Linked DNA regions of Homo sapiens: region 2 is linked to region 1. Evidence: fine-mapped expression QTL. A gene starts in region 1. The other region holds a variant in brackets. All regions are shown on one strand. Distances are between the middles of the regions. Region 1 holds the start of SAR1A (secretion associated Ras related GTPase 1A). Region 2 overlaps MACROH2A2 (macroH2A.2 histone).

Region 1 (5,000 bases):
TGAGTTTGCTTATGGTGTCATGATTGTTGTTATGCCATATAAGTTTTTAATTTTTATGTAGTTAAATTTGTCAATCTTTTCTTTTATGGCATCTACATTTTCTTTTCTTTCTTTTTTTTTTTTTTTTTTGAGATGGAGTCTCAGTCTGTTGCCCGGGGTTGGAGTGCAGTGGTGTGATCTCGGCTCACTGCAACCTCTGCCGCAGGGGTTCAAGCGATTCGCCTGCCTCAGCCTCCCAAGTAGCTGGGATTACAGGCGCCTGCCACTACGCCTGGCTAATTTTTTGTATTTGTAGTAGAGATGGGGTTTTACCATGTTGGCCAGGCTGGTCTCGAACTCCTGACCTTGTGATTCGCCAGTCTCAGCCTCCCAAAGCGCTGGGATTACAGGCATGAGTCACCACGCCCGGTCTAGATTTTCAATCATACCCAGAAAGGTCTTCTCATTGCAAAATTATAAGGAATCCATGCTTTCTTCTGTTTTTCTAGTACCTTTATAGTGTCATTTCAAAATACACACATCTTTTCATCACTTGAAACTTGTTTAGAGTAATAAACTTTTGGAGATTCAACCTGTAGGTTTTTTTGACTACCCAATTGTCTCAACCCCTTTTATTATTTATTAATTTATTTAACAACACATAACAGAATCATTTATTGAAAACAGTACTCTGGAAAAACTATGTGCACAACAATGCCTGTTTCACCCATTTTACAGTGGGTACATGGTGGTCTGGGGCATTCGTCAACTTGCTCAAGCCTTTAGGTAAGTAGAGTTTGCGGCTTTTCTGAGAATCTGCCTGCATGTTCCCTCCTTCCCCAGCCTCCCAAGCCATCCTGTGGTTCAGACACCTCCACCTCGTGCAGCCAGGCTCTCAACAAAGCCAGTAATCCAATGTGTTGGCTTGCACTGGGCTTGCATCTGTGTCTCCAGGATGCACAAGGGGTTCCAAGCCCCATGGACACATTGTCCCTGGTTTAGCTAAAGCTGGTGAGAAGCCTCAGAAGTGGCCTGACACCTTTCTGTGACAGGACAGGGTTCAAATTCAACATCTAAGACCCCAGGATGAGCGGAGGGTAGAGGGTGGTGAGCTTGCCCACTCAGCTCCCTGAGTATTGCTGGAGTCCCAGGTGCTACTTTAGTTTTATTTCTGCATGTACTTTAGTCATTTCTGTACTTTGCTCTGTTCCATTGTGTTTTTTGTGTGTGTGTGTTTGTGCATGTGCACGCACACCAGTTTTAATAACTTAGGCTCTATAATATGTTTTAATATCCAACAGGGTTAGTTCCCACCTCCTTGTTCTTCATTTTGAAAGCCTGTTTCTGGACTAGTTTTGTTTGGTTTTCTATACGAATTTTAGGAACAAATAGGGTAATTAAAAAAAAAGAACGAAACCACACACGACCTATTAATCCTATTAGTACTTTTATTGGGATTATGTTAAATTTAAATTTTACTAAAGGAGAATTGAGATCTTCATGAACCCACAGACGTCATTCATCTTTCCATTAGACTGTTTTATTTGTAAAATGAGAGTAATAATAGTACCAATCTCGTGGGACTGTCCTGAGAATTAAATGAGAAAATGCATGCGAAATATACTGGGGTGAACACGTTGCTTTGCCACTTAGCTGTGTGAACTTGGGCATGGTAGGTTATTCTGAACATTGCTCTCTCATTTGTCAATAAGGATAATACTAGCATCTGGAGTCACAGGACTCCAATGACGGTGAAATTAGACAAAGCGTGCAAAGTACCCAGTGCTCTGCCTGGAACATAAGTGCACAATAAATATTAGCTGTTTTTCTGTTTTTCTAAAACATAGGCCACCCCAGGGCAAGGAAGTGCGACTCAAAGCAAAAGCAGCTGGGCGCGGTGGCTCACGCCTCTCATCCCAGCATTTTGGAAGGCCGAGGCCAGCGGATCACTTGAGGTCAGAAGTTCGAGACCAGCCTGGCCAACACGGTGAAACCTGTCTCTGTAAAAATACAAAAAAATTAGCCAGGTGTGGTGACATGCGCCTGTAGTTCCAGCTACTCGGGAGGCCGAGGTATGAGAATCGCTTGAATCCGGGAGGTGGAGGTTGCAGTGAGCCGAGATCGCGCCACTGCACTCCAGCCTGGGCGACAAAGTGAGACTCCGCCTCAAAAAAAAAAAAAAAAAAAAAAAAAGCAAGGAAGAAAAAAAGCAAAAGCTTGGAGGGATCCACCTCAAGTGGAGGGCCCCAAGGTCAACTCATCTTTCCCAGGACCTATGTCACCGTCGGTACCCACTTCTGACTTTCCTGGTGCGTCTGGAATGGGAAGCCGCGATCCCGAGTGTACCAGGCCGCTCAGGGACTCCAGGACCCAGCCCCGGACCCAGGGTTCCGGCGCTGCCACGTCTCGCGCGGTCAGCTAGCCAGACGGGAGCAGGCGGGGCCGAGGCGGGGCCAGACCCCGAGCGCGCTTTGTCACGCCTTATGCCCGCCCCTCCGCGGCCCGAGTCGCTGGTGGGACGGCACCGGGGCAGAGAGGCGTAACGCTGTGAGGGGGCGGGGCCCATTACGCGCCCGGAAGTCCCGGGGAGGGGTGTGACGTACATCCGGCGAGTAGCTGGCGGTCCCGGGTGCTGCTGGTTAGTGTGCTCTGAGGGAGGGTCCGAGCCAGCCGCTGTTTTGCCGGAGGAGCCCCTCAGGCCGTGAGTCTGAGGGTCGCGTCGGGGAGGGGAGTTGGGGCTCGAGGGGCTGGGACGGAAGGCGGGGAGGTCGGAGCGGAGGCTGGCCCTGGCGGGGTTGGGTGGGGGGGAAGTGACACGCAGGCGGTTCTGTGGGGCCGCGGGGCTGATTCTGGGCGGGGACGGGACAACTTGGCCAGATCTGCTCCGTCCCCTGCTGTCCTCTTTGCCTGGGGTCCACTTGCATTCCGCTCGGGGGTCTCGCAGCTGCTGGGCCGGATAACAGTTTCTTGTCTGTACCGTGCGCTCCGGTTTACGAAATGGCTCCATGTCCTCTGTCTCGGAAGAGCCTCACAGCCCTCGGTGAGGCGGGTGGGAGCCCTTTATGATTATCCTTGTTTTGTAGACTCGGAGACTGAGGCTGGCCAAGGCTCCGCAGTTAGCGAGTGTGAGCGCTCGAACCTGGTCTACAGGCCCCTAGTCCAGGGCTTACCCCCAAGTCAGCGCTTGGTTGTCTTCCGATGGCCCGGGTCGAACCCTGTATTTTCTCCTTCTCCCTTCCCCTTTTCCCCTGTCTGGTCTCTGCATGGAAAAATTTCCTTATGTGCATTTGACATGGATTAGCGTTTTCTTCACGATTCTAGCCAGTGGGTCAGGAGCATCTTTGTCTTGTTGATTCCATCGGCTTCGGTTGCGACAGGGGGCTTAGGGAGATTCGCCATGGGGCTGACCTTTGACATTTACCCCGCAGCTAAGCAGAGTTAGCTAAAAGCCAGCCGCCTACTACCCCAAATCTGCCTGGAATGGCGTCTTAAAGTTGCCCTGATTATGTATAACAAGTAATGCGTAAATTTTTAAATTGGCTAATGGTCAGATTGGTGCCCTCCTTTTCTATTAACATTTGTTTGAATCATTTAGCCCTGGAATTCGCAAGTTTTCATTTTAGGTACATTAATAGTGTTTTGTTGATAGTTTAGAGACCTACCTTAAATTTTAGATTACTCTTAACTTCTCGTAAGGTGGTACAATGGACCAAGAATAGAAAATAAATAGAATGCTAGTTATTAAAATACCATTCAAAAGATGTGATGAGTTGTAAGGAAGAGAACTTCGGAAGATCATCCTCTGTGTAGTTGGTGGGTTAAAGAAGTTTTAGTTTTTTTTTTTTTCCCCAGCAATTTTGTGGTTTGGGTTTGAATTTTATGTACTGTTAACAGGAAGAGCTTAGGCTTTGGTGTTAGAGATGAGGGTTTAAGCCCTGGCACTATTACTTTTTCAACTGAGCCGTCTTAAAGGACTCAGCAAAACTAGGAGTATCCTCATCTTTATCTTGTTAAATGAGGCCAGTGATCCTTGCCTGGTAGGGTTGGTGTGGGGATGAAATGAGATGTACAAGTACTGTGCAGATTGTAAAACTACTGATGAGTTGGTACAAATCCTAAGATCTTAAGGAGAGAGGAGCCACCAAGGCCATTTTCAGCTGCTGAGGAGGCTGAGGTGGGAGGATCTCTTGAGCCTGGGAGGTTGAGGCTGCAGTGAGCCATGATGGCAACACTGCACTTCAGCCTTGGAGACAGAGTCTTGGTCTGTCTTAAGAAAAGGGGGGCGGGGGCATTTTCTTAACTTTGGGTAGCAGTGCAACCCGACTCTTTGGATCTAGTAAGGGTTTTTATTATTTTTAGCTCACCTGAAGAGTTTCTTCAGTCAGCCTCCACTCTCATCACTCCTTTACAACCCAACACTTCTATATACATTTGTACTACACTGGTTTTCAGTCAATACTTTACAGACTTGTAAAAAATGTTTACATCACTTTAGAAATTTTTCTTTCTTTCTTTTTTTTGAGATGGAGTTTTTGCTCTTGTTGTCCAGACTGGAGTGCAATGTCATGACCTCGGCTCACTACAACCTCTGCCTCCCGGGTTCAAGTGATTCTCCTGCCTCAACCTCCCGAGTAGCTGGGATAACAGGCGCCCACCATGCCTAGCTAATTTTTGTATTTTAAGTAGAGATGGGGTTTCACCATGTTGGCCAGGCTGATCTCGAACTCCTGACCTCAGGTCATCCACTTGCCTCGGCCTCCCAAAGTGCTGGGATTACAGGCATGAGCCAAGTATTTTCAACTAGATGAATTCTGCAAAGGTGAAAAGGAGAAAATGCCACACTTTAAATAGTTTTTCATGGCAATTGAACTACTTTAATTTTCCATTTTATTTTCCTTTGACACTCCTGCTTTTAAGCCATCTCCTCCCTTGGAGCATACAAATCAGCAGCAGCCGGGATTTAGCTACTTGGATGCTTTAATTCTTCCCTCCAAAATGATCTGAGTGGGAATGACCTTAAT
Region 2 (5,523 bases), 63 kb after region 1:
CAGGAGGGGCCTGTTAATAGGAATTCTTCCCAATCGCATGTATTCCAGCACAGAACAGCACTGCCGTGGTTCCACCGACGAAAGAATGCATCTCACAGCATCTCTGGGCCTGGAATGCTGAGACTCAATGCTGCTTGCCTAGGTTGATGTGTGATTACAGCAGGAACCTAGGTCTCATTATTTTCCTCTTGGGCTTCCCAGGACACAGCTATAAACCATAGCTATATTATAAAGGACAGCTCTCAAGGTGAGAGGGTGTTCAAAATTAAAGCAATAGATTGGCTAGGGGCATGAAGGGAAAGGATATGTTTTATGTGACAGCAGATATCCTCATTATGTATCTGAAACAATGCCCAGCTGGGATCTGTGACAATCCAGTCATTGCCCAGTCTCCTTTTCAGCAATCACTCGGGGACAGATTTTCACTTCTCTGGGTGTATTCATCAAAGCCTCGAACTCCTGGCTCTGCAGTCTCCCAGAGCAGCAACGGAATTCTCTGGGGATTCTGGAGCCAGAGGTCGGAGATGGGGGGCCTGAGATTCTGCATTCTGACATCGGTCACTGCTGCCTATGGACCACACTTTGAGTAGCAAGGCCTTCGAGCCTGGCGTTTTCTGATCATGTGTCCTGGACATGGACAGCTGGTGGGAATATGGACTTTGAACCTGGAAGGCTCTCAAAAAATAACACACCAGCTGGCCTCTGCCTCCCGCTCCTCCCCTGGGCTAGCCTTCCTCCTGGGGCTTTAACATCAAGGAGGCACTGGGGCTGGCCCCAGCCGGGGAAGACCTGCTGCCTAGGAGCCAGTGGGCTCGCTTCCCCATGGTTTCTGAAGGATGAAAACCGGGTTTCCTGCCCTGTCATCTGGTCAGCATACTTGGCTGTGCTGGCAGCCCTTGGCAACACCCAGATCAGATGTAAGTGGGGGAGCAGCTGATTTCCAGGGAAAAAGCCGGAGGAATCAACTCAGGGGAACTGCATCTTACCTGCCGCTGGGGAAAGGCGGGAACGCGACGGACTTTAGCTTCTTGTCCTCCGCCGCTGACAGGCAGTTTTTGATGGTCTCTTCAAGCTGTTCTTCACATTTGTCGGAGCCCCACTGAGGGATGTGACAGTGGATGACAAATTTGGCTGCGAGTCCACTGGATTGGCTGACGGCGGCTGGGACATAGGAGAGAAAATGCCGCGGGTTATTTCCTAAGGTTTCCTAGGTTATAGCCTAACCTCATCAGGTACCTGTTAGATCTGGAGATAAGGCAGTGATAGAGACGTTGGCTGGGCAGCATCCTGTGCTCCTGATGTGGACTATGTTTAACGAGAGCAAGAGCTGGGCTGTATTGCTTTGCACAGTTAGCACAAGCTTTGGGTAGAAGCGTTTAATGCTGCTCTGATGCGCCATTTTCATATGGTCTGCCAAGTAGTCCCTGGGTTGGGCTACCTCCTCACAATGGTTCCTAGTTAAAGGGACACATCAGATCCTCTCTGGTGGCTGTGGCAGGTAAAGTAATGGCATCCCAAAACATCCACGTCCTCCTCCCTGAAACCTGTGGGTGTTCCCGTACATGGCAAAAAGGACTTTGCAGATGTGATTAAGTGAAGGCTCTTGAGATGGGGAGATGATCCTGGACTGTCTGGGTGAGCCTGGGACCTGATAAGAGGGAGGCAAGAAGGTCAAAGGCAGGAGAAGGCCGTGGGATGAAGGAGACAGAGATTGGAACGATGCAGCCAGGAGCCAAGGAATGTTGCAGCTTAGAAGCTGGAAAAGGCAAGGAAGGGATCCTTCCCTGAGCCTCCAGAAGGAACCAGCCCTGCCAACACCTGGATCTTAGACTCTTAAAACTCATTGTGGACTTCTGGCCTCCAGAACTGTAAGAAGACAAATTTGTGTTGTCTGAAGCCACGAACTTTGTGGTAATTTGTTACAGTAGCCACAGGAAATGAATACAGTGGCTTTTATTTTTATTTTTTTATTTTTAGTTTTTTTTTGAGACAGAGTCTTTTTCTGTCGCCCAGGCTGGAGTGCAGTGGTGCGATCTCAGCTCGCTGCAACCTCCACCTCCTGGGTTCAAGTGATTCTAGTGCCTCAGCCTCTCGAGTAGCTGGGATTACAGGCATGTGCTAATTTTTAAAATTTTTTTATAGAGATGAGGTTTTGCTATGTTGCCCAGACTGGTCTTGAACTCCAGGGCTCAAGTGATCCTCTTGCCTCAGGCACCCAAAGTGCTGGGATTACAGGCGTGAGCCATCACACCTGGCCTACTGTGGCTTTTAAAAAATAGCTGTGCCTGGGCCCCACAGAGTCAGGGTACTGACCACCCAGAGGTCCTGACTCAGTAGGTCTGGTGCAGGGGCTTATGCTTATGTGATTTTAGGACCTTCTATGAGTTGAGAACCACTGAACTTGATTGTGTAGTTCCTTGACAGGGACTGCCATTTGATGATCTCCACATGCCCTGCAGAGAGTGGGGTTTCAAAAGCGGGCTGTGAAACTGAATTAGGCCAGCCTTGTCTCACAATTTCTGTCATACTCCTTTGTTTTACTGTTTACTCCCCTAAATGTGGTTCCCATTGGTGACAGAGTTGATAAAGCCCCGTGGCTGCTAAGCTCGAGGGAAGTCCCT[G/A]TGGGACTCCCCAGGGGAGCAGTTCCCTCGGATCTGCCTGAGGCAGCTGCAGCTTCAGCCATGAGCCATGCTTGCCCCCACGCTGCCCGTCTGCGCCCTGTGCCCCTCCAGGAACCCAGGAATCGGCGTAGCAAGGGTCCGTGGCCACTAGGGGCAGCACTTGTAACAGAAACGTGTGTCCGCCGTATTCCAGAGCTGTGTGTGGGGTTGAGGTGAAAGACTGACTGGAAATCTATGATGCCCACCTAGTTTATATAAGTATTTCCTGGCAATGTCCACAGTGTCAGGGAAGTGCTGACTGCACTTCCTCACATGGGTAGAAGCCAAATCCAAGGGACCCCTTCGTCCATCAGGGGAGGCTGTAGGCTCCCTGCCTTCCAGTGCCTAGACGGGGCTCAGTGTCATCACACGTGAACGCCTGAGTGCAGGACCCAGGCCACACAATACACCGAGGCCCTGGGTAGGGGCCCGCCATGCGTGCTGACTCTACGACCACGTATATTTGTGCACCAGAAGCAGAGTGTCCCTCTTTGGACTGAACAATGATGCCCCTAAAACTGGAGGCTGCTCTGCTGAGAACCAAGGACCCTGGAGATGGGCCTTGCCTGCATGGTGCCATCTTCCCGAGCACCTGGCTGCTATTGTATGCCGGACAGAGTTTGGCTTGTTACAGTCATGGCTGATTTATTTCATATATTTTAAAAGTATAATCATGTTACTAGCAGAATGGTATTCCTCTAATGTAAAGTCTTTTTTTTTTTTTTTTTTTTGAGACAGGATGCCCCTCTGTTGCCCAGGCTGGAGTGCAGTGGCTCGATCACAGCTCACTGCAACCTCTGCCTCTCGGGTTCAAGCGATTCGATTCTCCTGCCTCAGCTTCCCAAGTGGCTGGGATTACAGGCACCCGCCACCATGCCCGGCTAATTTTTTGTATTTTTAGTAGAGATGGGGTTTCACCATGTTGGCCAGGTTGGTCTTGAACTCCTGACCTCAAGTGATCCACCCACCTCGGCCTCCCAAAGTGCTAGGATTATACTGCACCCAGCCAAAAGTCATTTTTAAATAAAAGGAATATGTTCCTATTGGCAATGTCAAACATCCAATCAAGTAAAAAATGACTTTCAGGGTAGTGCACGATGACATTTCAGTCCAAAACAAAGTATGTTCATGGCAACTGGAAATGAATAACACAGCTTGTAGCCATAATGCTTTGTAATGTTCTCCAGAGTTGTCAAGGATGAGGGTCAAGTTATTGCAAGGGCTGTGACCCTGGTATTTGGTATAAGCACCTATCCACATAATGACTAGGGGCATTCTCTTACCTAATGTGATGTTGCCTGGTGAAGACCTGCATTCTGAGGGTGGCAGTGCTGCTGCTGGGAGCTTCTAGAACCTTCCCCCAGGTGAGCCATCACAGTTCTTGGGAGTCACCACAGCAAAAGGGGACTCTAGGTTGGCCCCTTGTCCTGCTGAGAGGCTGCTACTGCTGATGCCTGGTTTCCGTGACACTGTGGGTTTTCTTTTAACAGCACCTCAGTTTCCCACAATGGCCTCTCTTCTTCCTGCGTGTCTGGGCCCAGTGCTCTTCTCTCTGCTGCAGCCCCACCTCCTAAGCAGCCATCTGCAAGCCATTTTCCTCCTTAGCTTTCAACAGGGACCTGCACCTCATGACCTTTCTGGGGCCCCAGGGCTAACACGTGCCCAGTAAAATGGCCATTCACTCCTGAAACCCGATTCCCCTTTTTCCCTCTTTGTCACTGCAGACACCATCAGTTTCCTCTGCCTTGTCTCATTTCAGGCCCATGTGCTTCATTTTCACCCCCACTCCACCCCCACCCTCATCCAATACAGCTTTCTTGATGGTCTTCGGGCCCCAGCCCTCTGTCTGCCAAACCATCCTCCACACGGTTGCTGGAGCCAAGGTCCTTAAACTCCACATTTAAACTCAGAATCTGCAACTGCTCCTGATTGCCCCCTGGCCTTACTGCAGTCCTCCCAGGCTCCCTTCATGGTCGGCCCCTCTCCCCTTGGAGTCTATCCATTTCTTGCTCTTTCTGGATGCCCAGTCGTCCTCCAGCCAGTGGGCTCAGTCCCCTGCACACATGGGTCTGGCTGCACCTCTGTCTCCACACTTGGCTATCCTCCTTTGTCCCTGACTCCCTCGCCCATTCTCTCCGGGCCTCTGCCATGCAATTCAGCAGCCAGCTGTGCTAAGTGATGTACTGTGTTACCCTGGGGTCCCCGCCTGGTTGTAAAATTCAGGAGTGTTCAGGGCCTACAATCACATCCACATCCTGATGCCTGCGCCCGACAGCACACACCGTAGATGCTTAACGTGAACTGGTTCTGCCCCAGCTGACATCTTCACTGAAGCACTTTTGTATTCCTTGCTGCTGCCTGGCTCCTGCCACAGTCACTGGCAGGCAGGTGCTCCAATATTCAACAAATGAATGAAAGTCCTGACTTTTCATCAGTTTGCTCAGCCCTGGAAACCCTGGACTTACCTTAGCTCCAGCTTCTGCCTCCCTGAACATGCAGCATCGCTGCCTCTCACTGACTCTGCACCTGAAATATTTTCTTGATCCACCCTCCCCGACCCCCTGCCACAGGGTGGGCCTGCACTGCAGTTGGTCTGTTTTAACCATGTTAAGATGCACTTTTTTTTTGTTTAAATATTTTAATATTGTTGAAATCAGGAAGCATCTTAGAACTGCTGTCAGCCTGGAGCTGAGTTCTTCCAGAAAGAAATTACATTTCCTTCTATGTCACCTGGGGACACTACCAAACTAAGGCTATGTCTCACTCTCTTCTCTGCCTCAGGTTTTGAGCTGCACTGGATCTGGCTGCAAATCTTCAGGAGCACTGGCTTGCGGTTCAAATTCTTTTTCTGTTTTTTAGACAC

What was found.
Region 2: its variant is fine-mapped to the expression of SAR1A in whole blood (TOPMed, PIP 0.98).

What each region holds. Positions count from the first base shown.
Region 1 is chr10:70,168,093-70,173,092 of GRCh38, reverse strand. It overlaps SAR1A (secretion associated Ras related GTPase 1A), which reads left to right and starts at 2,579. Exons shown (of 7, transcript NM_020150.5): 1 at 2,579-2,680. RefSeq lists enhancers at 2,085-2,164, 2,298-2,954, 2,955-3,613 and a silencer at 2,295-2,654.
Region 2 is chr10:70,104,671-70,110,193 of GRCh38, reverse strand. It overlaps MACROH2A2 (macroH2A.2 histone), which reads right to left. Exons shown (of 9, transcript NM_018649.3): 8 at 987-1,161. Among named protein-coding and RNA genes, the nearest start is that of AIFM2, 25 kb to the left of the region's middle. RefSeq lists an enhancer at 2,629-2,708. The variant G/A (reference allele first, on the strand shown) is at 2,622.